3 linked regions of the Homo sapiens genome follow. The protein of the gene in region 2 interacts with the protein of the main gene of each other region in a pairwise test. Each region holds a gene or a part of one and is shown on either strand. Other genes may lie near its edges.

Evidence for each region.
Region 1: the proteins of DDX21 (region 2) and CARF interact in binary tests that used the Homo sapiens proteins (3 or more experiments, as listed by UniProt).
Region 3: the proteins of DDX21 (region 2) and RBFOX2 interact in a two-hybrid assay, tested with the Homo sapiens proteins (one large-scale study listed by BioGRID).

What each region holds. Positions count from the first base shown.
Region 1 is NC_000002.12:202,918,578-202,922,318, forward strand, and holds part of CARF (calcium-responsive transcription factor), read left to right. Parts: intron 1-3,741. UniProt on the Homo sapiens protein: Acts as a transcriptional activator that mediates the calcium- and neuron-selective induction of BDNF exon III transcription. Binds to the consensus calcium-response element CaRE1 5'-CTATTTCGAG-3' sequence.
Region 2 is NC_000010.11:68,982,869-68,985,568, forward strand, and holds the end of DDX21 (nucleolar RNA helicase 2), read left to right. Parts: 3' UTR 1-2,200; downstream 2,201-2,700.
Region 3 is NC_000022.11:35,808,719-35,812,459, reverse strand, and holds part of RBFOX2 (RNA binding protein fox-1 homolog 2), read left to right. Parts: intron 1-2,455; coding exon 2,456-2,680; intron 2,681-3,741. UniProt on the Homo sapiens protein: RNA-binding protein that regulates alternative splicing events by binding to 5'-UGCAUGU-3' elements. Prevents binding of U2AF2 to the 3'-splice site.

The sequences.
Region 1 (3,741 bases), on a different chromosome or scaffold from region 2:
AGTTAATTGGCAGTTAGGGATAAAAACTTATAGCATATACTGACATTCAGGATAGTTGGGAAAATCAGCTATTTTAAGTCACTTTGCAGTTGTCAGGATTAAAGAAGGTAAAGCAAATTGATGGAAGAAAGGAGGAAGGAAGAGGTAATACTTTTCACTGCATCCAAATTATTTTTTTAAAGTGTGTCTGTAACTTAAAAATGTACTTTTAATCTTCATTTCAACAATGGGTTAGGTCAGTCATCATATTAAAACCAACTTTTCCGTATAGAAACTACTTTAATATTTTCTCAATGTAACCACAAAAAGTCTTTAACCCATAGATTTTCATTTCCAGAAGGCAGTAGAAAATATAGTTATTTTTATTCCATTGGCAAAATCTCAATATGGGCAAAATTCTGCAGTAGGTGGTTTGTGTTTGGCAGTCTTCCTCTGTCAACATACTCCCCACCCCTTAACTAGTGTACTTACCTAAGCCAGTCATACTTCCCTCAGTCTTCACTGCAGCATCCTGTGCAGGCCTGCTGAATCCCTCTAAGTTCTTTGAGGCTCACCTGTACTTGCTTTCTCACCTCCAAGTAAAACTTTTCACTCCCTCAGGGTAGCTCTTTTTAACTCGTTTTAAAGGAAGAAATCCATCCTTACAGAAATTTATACCAATTTGTTAATGGCTGATGTTCCCTCCAAAGTTTTTTCTTTTTAAGAAAAAGGGCTTATTAACATCAATGAAAATTTTACTGATGAAATTTCAGAGTGAGTGAGCAAAAGTAAATAAAGTAAAAAAAATAAAATTAGGCTAGTAAAGGTAACTTGCAGTAGGATCAGAGTACCTGTCAGGAAACTGGGAATATTTGGAATTCTTACCCCTAAGCTATTGGCACTTTTTACAACTTCTTCCTAAACTCCACTTCTCAATCTGTTCTACCTAATGTTTTTTCAGTGACTACAATGCCTGCATAGTTAGAGCTCTAGCTTTTGGGTGGTGTCGGAGATAGAGTTTTTTGTATGTTACGGTACTGCTTCTAATTAAATTTCAACTGGCAAAAGTTGAAAACAAAAAGGAACAAATAATTCCTTTTAACATCTTTAATTTGTTAACCTATCCAGAAAAAGATTTAAAGCTATGGATTTTTGACTAATAAAGGCAGAAGAGAGCTTTGTTTATTGGTTTGAAAAAGTTCCTATTGTAATAATAGAGTACGGGCTTTGAAATAAACACATGTAGGTTTGAGTTCTTGCTCAGCCACTCAGCATATTTGTAATCTTGGGAAAGTTACTTATCTGCCTATCCTATATGTAAATTGGAACAGGTAACTGAATCACAGCATTGTCAAAAGGGTTAAATGATATAGGTAAAACACTTTTAGCATAGTACCTTACTATGGTAAATGCTCAATAAATGATAACCTTATAATTTTGAGCAATGAACCTCATCATCTTTTTCTATAAAATGATGATAATAATAGGTCCTATATCACAGAATAGTAGAGTGATTGTTGATAATTCTAGCTAATAATTATTTAGGATAGTTGAGATTCAATACATTCTATTTTATAACTATGACAATTAAATTCATAATCTTTTTTTTTTTTTTTGAGACGGGGTCTCGCTCTGTCGCCCAGGCTGGAGTGCAGTAGTGCACTCTCAGCTCACTGCAAGCTCCGCCTCCCGGGTTCACGCCATTCTCCTGCCTCAGACTCCTGTAGCTGGGACTACAGGCGCCCACCATCATGCCCGGCTAATGTTTTTTTGTATTTTTAGTAGAGATGGGGTTTCACCATGTTAGCCATGATGGTCTTGATCTCCTGACCTTGTGATCCGCCCGCCTCGGCCTCCCAAAGTGCTGGGATTACAGGCGTAAGCCACCGTGCCTGTCCTAAATTCATAATCTTAATTGATCTATCATAATAGTGCTTATATTTTAAAAGTCAAAGAGCTCTCAGAAATATTAAGAAATTTTTTTGATCTTGATGTCATCATGTTTAGACAGTGAATATTCAGATTACTTTAAAAATTAAGCCAGGTGCAGTGAGCCAAGATCGCGCCATTGCACTCCAACCTGGGCAACAAGAGTGAAACTCCGTCTCAAAAAAAAAATGGGAAAGAAAGAAAAAGAAAATTAAACTGTATTTAAATCGTATTCTTGACAATTTACTTTAGAATAGTAAATTGTATTCCTAATAGGAAAAAAGCAAGAAAAAGGTAAATTTTTAAAACGTTATATTCCTAATAGATATTTCATTTTTAATAAGCCCCTCAATAGGACCTTATTTGCAGTTGAATCTAACTTTGTAAAAAGTTTCCTGTTTTAATAGAGTCCTTTTGTATTTCTGTGTAGTGCATATTGGAAGTCAGTCAATAAATAATAGTTAAATGAATTTTAAAAATCAGGATAATCAACTCTTAGAAACATAAAATCTTAGTATTATTATTATATTTTTTGAGACGGAGTCTCACTCTGTCGCCCAGGCTGGAGTGCAGTGGTGCAATCTCGGCTCACTGCAACCTCCGCCTCCCAGGTTCAAGCAATTCTCCCGCCTCAGCCTCCCAGGTAGCTGGGACTACAAGTGCGTGCCACCGTGCCCGGCTCATTTTTTGTATTTTTGGTAGAGACGGGGTTTCACCATGTTAGCCAGGATGGTCTTGACCTCCTGACTTTGTGATCCGCCTGCCTTGGCCTCCCAAAGTGCTGGCTGGGATTACAGGTGTGAGCCACTGCACCTGGCCCAAAGTTCTTTAATTCCAGAAAATTTTAGATCTATGTAAACACCTCAGTAAATTGAAGAAATTTCTATTACCTTGCCATCAGACAGCTTTGTATTAAATTAAATCTCTATATTCAGGTCAGTTTCTTTTGCATTTTCCATAATTGCGTTAGTTAATTAGCAAACATGAGTTCACTTAAAATGTTCAGTTCCTCTGTGATATCATGAAATAAACCTGATTTTAAAAATTCAGATATAGTTATAAAACACACAGAATATAAATTTTATACATAGAGACTTTAAGTGTCTTGATCATCCTTGTATCTCCAGCACATAGAACAGTCACTTGGATGTGTAGTAATAATTCATTTTGTGAATGAATATCTGCTTATAAATATATATGATTAGAAAAAATCTGGAAGAATATGCAAAAATGTCAATAGTGATTTCTGTAAAATTATAAGTGACTTTAACTTTCTGATGTTGCTATATTAACATAATATTTGTTTTAATGACATAAACAATAAAACTTAAAATTTTATTGAAAAATTTTTTTTTCCTGAGATGGGGTCTCACTCTGTCACCCAGGCTGGAGTGCAGTGGCATGATTATGACTCACTGTAGCCTCAAACTCCTGAGCTCAACCAGTCCTCCCACCTCAGCTTCCCAAGAAGCTATGGGGACTATAGGCACTCACCACCATGCCTGGCTGATTTTTTTTTTTTTCAATAGAGACAGAATCTCATTATATTTCCCAGGCTGATCTTAAACTCTGGCTTCAAGCCATTCTTCCACCTTGACTTCCCAAAGTGCTAAGATTACAGGGATTAGCCACCACACTGAGCCCTTAAAAAGAAATTTTTAATCTTTTGAGACAGGGTCTTGCCCTGTCATGATCATGGTTCACTGCAGCCTCAATGTCCTGGGCTCAGGCAATCCCCCCACCTCAGCTTTCTAAGTAGCTGGGACCACGACACATGCCACCACACCCAGCTAATTTTTAAAAATTTTTTTGTAGAGATGGGGGTCTCACTAT
Region 2 (2,700 bases):
GAACATTATTTTTCATGCAAAGTTAAAAGCACATTGTGCCTCCTTTTGACCACTTGCCAAGTCCCTGTCTCTTTCAGACACAGACAAGCTTCATTTAAATTATTTCATCTGATCATTATCATTTATAACTTTATTGTTACTTCTTCATCAGTTTTTCCTTTTGAAAGGTGTATGAATTCATTACATTTTTATTCTAATGTATTATCTGTAGATTAGAAGATAAAATCAAGCATGTATCTGCCTATACTTTGTGAGTTCACCTGTCTTTATACTCAAAAGTGTCCCTTAATAGTGTCCTTCCCTGAAATAAATACCTAAGGGAGTGTAACAGTCTCTGGAGGACCACTTTGAGCCTTTGGAAGTTAAGGTTTCCTCAGCCACCTGCCGAACAGTTTCTCATGTGGTCCTATTATTTGTCTACTGAGACTTAATACTGAGCAATGTTTTGAAACAAGATTTCAAACTAATCTGGGTTGTAATACAGTTTATACCAGTGTATGCTCTAGACTTGGAAGATGTAGTATGTTTGATGTGGATTACCTATACTTATGTTCGTTTTGATACATTTTTAGCTTCTCATTATAAGGTGATTCATGCTTTAGTGAATTCTTCATAGATAGTATATATAAAAGTACATTTTAATAGAAAGCCAGGGTTTTAAGGAATTTCACATGTATAAGGTGGCTCCATAGCTTTATTTGTAAGTAGGCTGGATAAATGGTGCTTAAATGGTAATGTACTCCACTTCTTCCTATTGGAAGATTAACATTATTTACCAAGAAGGACTTAAGGGAGTAGGGGGCGCAGATTAGCATTGCTCAAGAGTATGTAAAAAAAAAAAAAAAAAAAAAGAACCAAACCACTGGAAATAATCAAATGCAAAAAGGTAACAAATTCATAACTGGAAAGCAAAGAGAAGAACAAGTATGATTTGGATGATAAAGCATTGTTTTAATGGTGAAAACTTCACAGATCACTAATGTTTCTAGAGGTTAACTTCAAGTGGGCAAGCTGGGGTTTTTAGGTAGTCAGTGGCCTAGTTCCTAAAGCCACAGTATAGGATCTGTTAAACTGAATGTCTGTTGAAAGTTTGTTTTAGCTGCTTGGAGGCTTCCTTTTAAGACAAACTGTATGTGATTAAGTTGTTTTGAGGGAACTGAAGAACCTGATGTAGCCCCTGGCCAGATAACTGCCTGATTTCTCAGATATTATTTCTCTGGGAAACATTCTACATAGCACAGGAGCTTAAGAGTGGCATTATCTTCTCGCCTTAATTTCCAGAGATTATTTCTGTACTGAGAATCCTGGAACTACTATGCTAGGAAATTTAAAGCTGCATGGTCTGTCTTGTTTTCATTTAATTATTGTGAATACCTAGAATCTTTCTTGGTCCTGATTTCTCTTGCTTAATCCAGTCTTTATCTCTAACTGCCCCTTATTTGATCACCATGTACTAGGAGCTCTGATAGCCAGCTCAGCTCCTAATCCTTGAGGCAACATTCTTTTTCTATTTGAACTTCAGTTCTGTCCTTGAATCCCGACTAGATATTTCTTGCCCTCTGGTCTCAGAATTCTCTTGGCTTTTATTCCTTGATCCACTTGCCAGTTTTATCACTTTACCCTTGTTCCTCATGGCTTCCCATCAAGCCATGGGTATTAGGTGACAGTGTAATTTATTAGATTCTGGTTTTGCCCAAATACTGGGCATGCTTTAATAATAACTGAACCATTTCATTATTTGGATAGGCATGGGTACCTTATCAAGCAGATTAAAAGGATATGGTACCCGTCCTTTAGAAAAGAACAGCTAAAACCTTGTTGTGGATTATGGATTTAGCCTAAAGAAAAATAATCTGGCATAAATTAAGAGTAAGAGAGAAGATTAATAGAAATTTCACTTCACATAACTTAAAACATGGCTATTTCAATAAAGGACTAAAGTTTCTCCTGGATCCCAGAATTCAACCTGTATTTATAAATGTATAATGTATTTAGCTACTTTTTGGTTTAAATGAACTTGTTGGGTTAGCTTGGTAAATGTTATAATTTTTACTATTTTCTACAAAGAAAATATTTTCTAATTTAAGTTGGAGCTATCTGTGCAGCAGTTTCTCTACAGTTGTGCATAAATGTTTTTACTATAAAATGAGCTAATGTATAAAATACTGCTGTATACCATAATAAAGATAGTAATACTTGATTTTAGTGGCTTTTGTTTTCTAAAATGAAAATAGCTTGAAATATTTATTATAAAAATAATAAAAGCTAGATATAAAAATCTAAAGAGAAAAAAAACCAGTCACCCTTATCTAATATTTTAGTGAGCAGTCTTCCACATGTTCATTTATAAAATTGGAATTATTTGATTTTGTGTATTGCTTTTCCCCCCTCAACATGTTGTGCACAATTTTGTACAGGCTTACATGGACATTTTTGATGACATGTTTTCTTGTATGGATATGCCACTACACATTTAACCAGTACTCGATGTCCATGTTGGTTATTTCTAATTTTTCACCATTATAAACAACCCTAAAGTTAATATCCTCACATATGTGTTTGCATACTCGTCTGTCACCTTAGGATACGTTTTCTAAAGGTAGAACTACAGCTTTGAACTCCTAGGCTCAAGTGATCTTCCCTCTCAGCCTCCCAAGTAGCTGAGACTACAGGGGGGTACCACCAAACCTGGCTAATATT
Region 3 (3,741 bases), on a different chromosome or scaffold from region 2:
ACTATTTTATATCTCTCGTCAGATGCCCAGAATAGCTATAAAGACATCATAAAAACTATCCTAACCTAGAAATAACGTAAAGAAGTTATATGGTGATGGGTGACGAAGATAGACTTTTTCCAAAAAAATTTAAAGTTTTCATAACATATTTTCTAAGAACTAAAGAGAGGGGTTTTTTTTTTTTTCTATCTTTTGAGATGGAGTCTCACTCACTCTGTTGCCCGGGCTAGAGTTTAATGGCAGCGATGTCAGTTCACTGCAATGTCCTCCTCCTGAGTTCAAGCGATTCTCCTGCCTCAGCTTCCAAGATATCTGAGATTAAAGGCATTTGGCACCATGCTTGGCTAATTTTTGTATTTTTAATAGGGATGGAGTTTCACCATGTTGGCCAGGCTGGTATTGAACTCCTGACCTCAAGTGATCTGCCCGCCTCAGCCTCACAAGGTGCTGGGATTACAGAAGTGAGCCACCACACCCAGCCTTTTTTTTTTTTTTTTTTCCCTTAAGAGACGTGGTCTTTCTGTTGCCCAGGCTAGGGTGATGCAATCATGGCTCACTGCAGCCTCCAGCTCCTGGGCTCAAGCAGTCCTCCTTTCTCAGCCTCACAAGTAGCTGGGACTACACATACCACCATGCCCAGCTAATTTTTTAAAGTTTTTCTAGAGACAGGGTCTCTTTGTGTTGGCCAGGCTGATCTTGAACTCCTAGCCGCAGGCAGTCCTCCCATCTCAGCCTCCCAAAGTGCTGGGATTACAAGGGCATGAACCATTATGTCCAATAGCAGGAAAATTTTTATGTAAAGCAATTTATTTTTATTTTTATTATTAATTTCTGTTACAGAATCTTCATTCCTGCCTTTACCAGTTTGCAAGGGCTGCCATAAGAAAGTATTACATAACAATATAGCAATGTATTTTCTTACCATTCTGGAGGCTAGAAGTGCAAGATCAGGGTGTCAGCAGGGTTGGTTTCTTCTGATGTCTTTTTTGTTGGCTTGTAGATGGTCATGCTCTGTGTCTTCACATGGGCCTCCCTCTGTATGTGTCTGTATCCACATTCCCTTTTCTTATAAGGACACCACTCCAATTGGATTAAGGCCCACCCTCATGACATCACTTTAATTACCTTTTTAAAGACCTTATCTTTAAAAACAGTGACATTTTGAGGTACTGAGGGTTAGAACTTCAACATACGGGTTGGAGACTGAGCACAACTCAGTCTATGACTCTGCCCCTTCCCACTGATAACTGTAATCAGTTCATCACTTTTTATCTAGACTGTGGCAGCCCCCCACCCCCAATTCTCTGCCTTTTTTCTTTCACCACTATTGTGTAAAGCAGTTTTTATTACCAAGTAGAAATGATTCTTGGACATTGGAGACAGCTGAATTTTGAAGTTGTTTAACTTTTAAATGGAAGAGAGTTATGAATTTTTGTTTCAAGGTAGGTCACTACCATTCTCTTAAGAGTAACACAGTAATTCAGTGTTTCAGAATATTGGCTTCCCCTTATTGATGATATATTTTTTGTCATTCTCTTTAGTATTAAAAACAATATATTTGTATAGGTTTTATTACAAAAGTAATATATGTTTATTATTGGGGCACAAGGAAACTTTTGGGGGTTTTGGATATATGTGTTGACTATCTTGATTGTGGTGATGATTTCATGAGAATATAAGTGCATATATCAAAACTTACCAAATTGTATACTGTAAATAAATAAGTGCTGTTTATCATATGACAGTTATATCATAATAAAACTGCTTAATTTTTTTGCTGATTTGATGACTAAAGACTTGGACTTACTTTGATGTTAATGTGAATTTTCGTGACAGTTAGTGAGGTTGAGCATTTTTATTAGTTGTTTGTATTTCATTTTCAATGAATTGTTCAGATACACAGTTTGCCTGTTTTTCTCTTGGGATGTGTGTGTGTTTGTGTGTACATGTGTGTCTGTCTTGTCAACTTGGTTAACCCACTCTGGGACTAGTGATAATAACCCAGCATCTCTCTTACCTTTTGCTAATATTTTCTCCTAGTTGATTTTTCTTTTTTGTTTTTCGTATTTTTTAGGGACAGAGTCTCTCTCTGTGGTATAGGCTGTAGTGGCTTGTGGTCCAAAGTGGGCTCTCCACCTACTTTTAATTTAAAGGAAAGATTTTTGCCCCTTTGGCATCTAGTCCACTTAAATATGGTTGTGGGCCTGTCTAGTAACTACACATTAACAAAAGTGAGTGTGTGTGTGTGTGTGTGTGTGTGTGTGTGTGTGTCTGTCCACATACATATATCTATGTGTGTATGTGTAATAATATTTTCTCCAATCCTGGAGCAATAAGCATTCCATTTTACCTATGCAGTGAGAGAATATTCAGAGAATTCCATATACTCACTTTAAAAATAGTTACGTAACAAGGATTCAAAGTCACTTTTTCTTTCTCTTGTTGTTTGTTTTAGGGTAACCAGGAGCCGACAACAACTCCTGACGCAATGGTTCAGCCTTTTACTACCATCCCATTTCCACCACCTCCGCAGAATGGAATTCCCACAGAGTATGGGGTGCCACACACTCAAGACTATGCCGGCCAGACCGGTGAGCATAACCTGACACTCTACGGAAGTACGCAAGCCCACGGGGAGCAGAGCAGCAACTCACCCAGCACACAAAATGGATCTCTTACGGTACGTGGACCATGAGGTGAAAAATGGAAGGATGCATGGCAATCATATAGAAATTGTCGCCTTAATTATACAATTAGAAGACTCTCGGAATTAATTTAGCATTTACACCTGTTCTCATTTACACCTTCTCTCAACAGCATTGTATACATTGTCCTCCCTCCTCCTAGAAATACTTAGTCTCTTGGCTTTTCGAGCTCTCCCAATTTTCCTGCCAAGCACTGGGTGTTCTGCTCCTGCCTCCTTCTCTGTTCAACTTTTAAATGGTGCAGTACTCCATATGTAGGTCCTGGAACCCCTTTTCTTTTTATTTTATATCCTTTCTCTGCATAATTATACTACCAAACTCAAGCAAAACCTAGGAATATTCTTTCTTTCTTTCTTTCATCTGTACATCTAATTGATTAGCAAGTCTTGACAACCATAACTCTAAAACTACTTCGTCTTCTTCTCTACATCTTATTACTCTTCCACCAAATTGCTTGTGTTTGAATCTCAATATGGCCCCTACTAAACTGTGTGACCTTGGACCAGTTATTTAATCTCTCTGCCCTTGGCTCACTCTAAAATGAAGATAATAGTACCTACCTGAAGAGGCTGTTAGGAAATTTAAAAGAATTTATCATCATCACTGCTCTAGTCCAAACCTCATCACTTATTTCCGGTATTACTGTTGCCTAACTTATCTATCCTCCACATAGGACTAAGGTGGTTTTTTTTTTTTTTTAATGCAAATGCCGATTTCCTACTTAACTCTTAATAGTTCCCTAATGCAATTAGAATATAATCTGAACTCCGTACTTGGTTTACTAGTCTCTAGCCCCAGCTTACCTCTTTGACTTCACCTCTTACTACTAACTTGCTAAAGTAAAGGAAATGTCATAAATTAATAATAGGTATATATCTCATACATACCAACATATGGGAAATTGTATTGTCTCTTGCTTTGTTGTCCAGGCTGGAGTGCAGTGGCATGAACATAGCTAGCTCACTGCAACCTCAGTCTCCTGGGCTCAAGTGATCCTCCTGCCTCAGCCTCCCATCTAGCTGGGACTACAAGCACA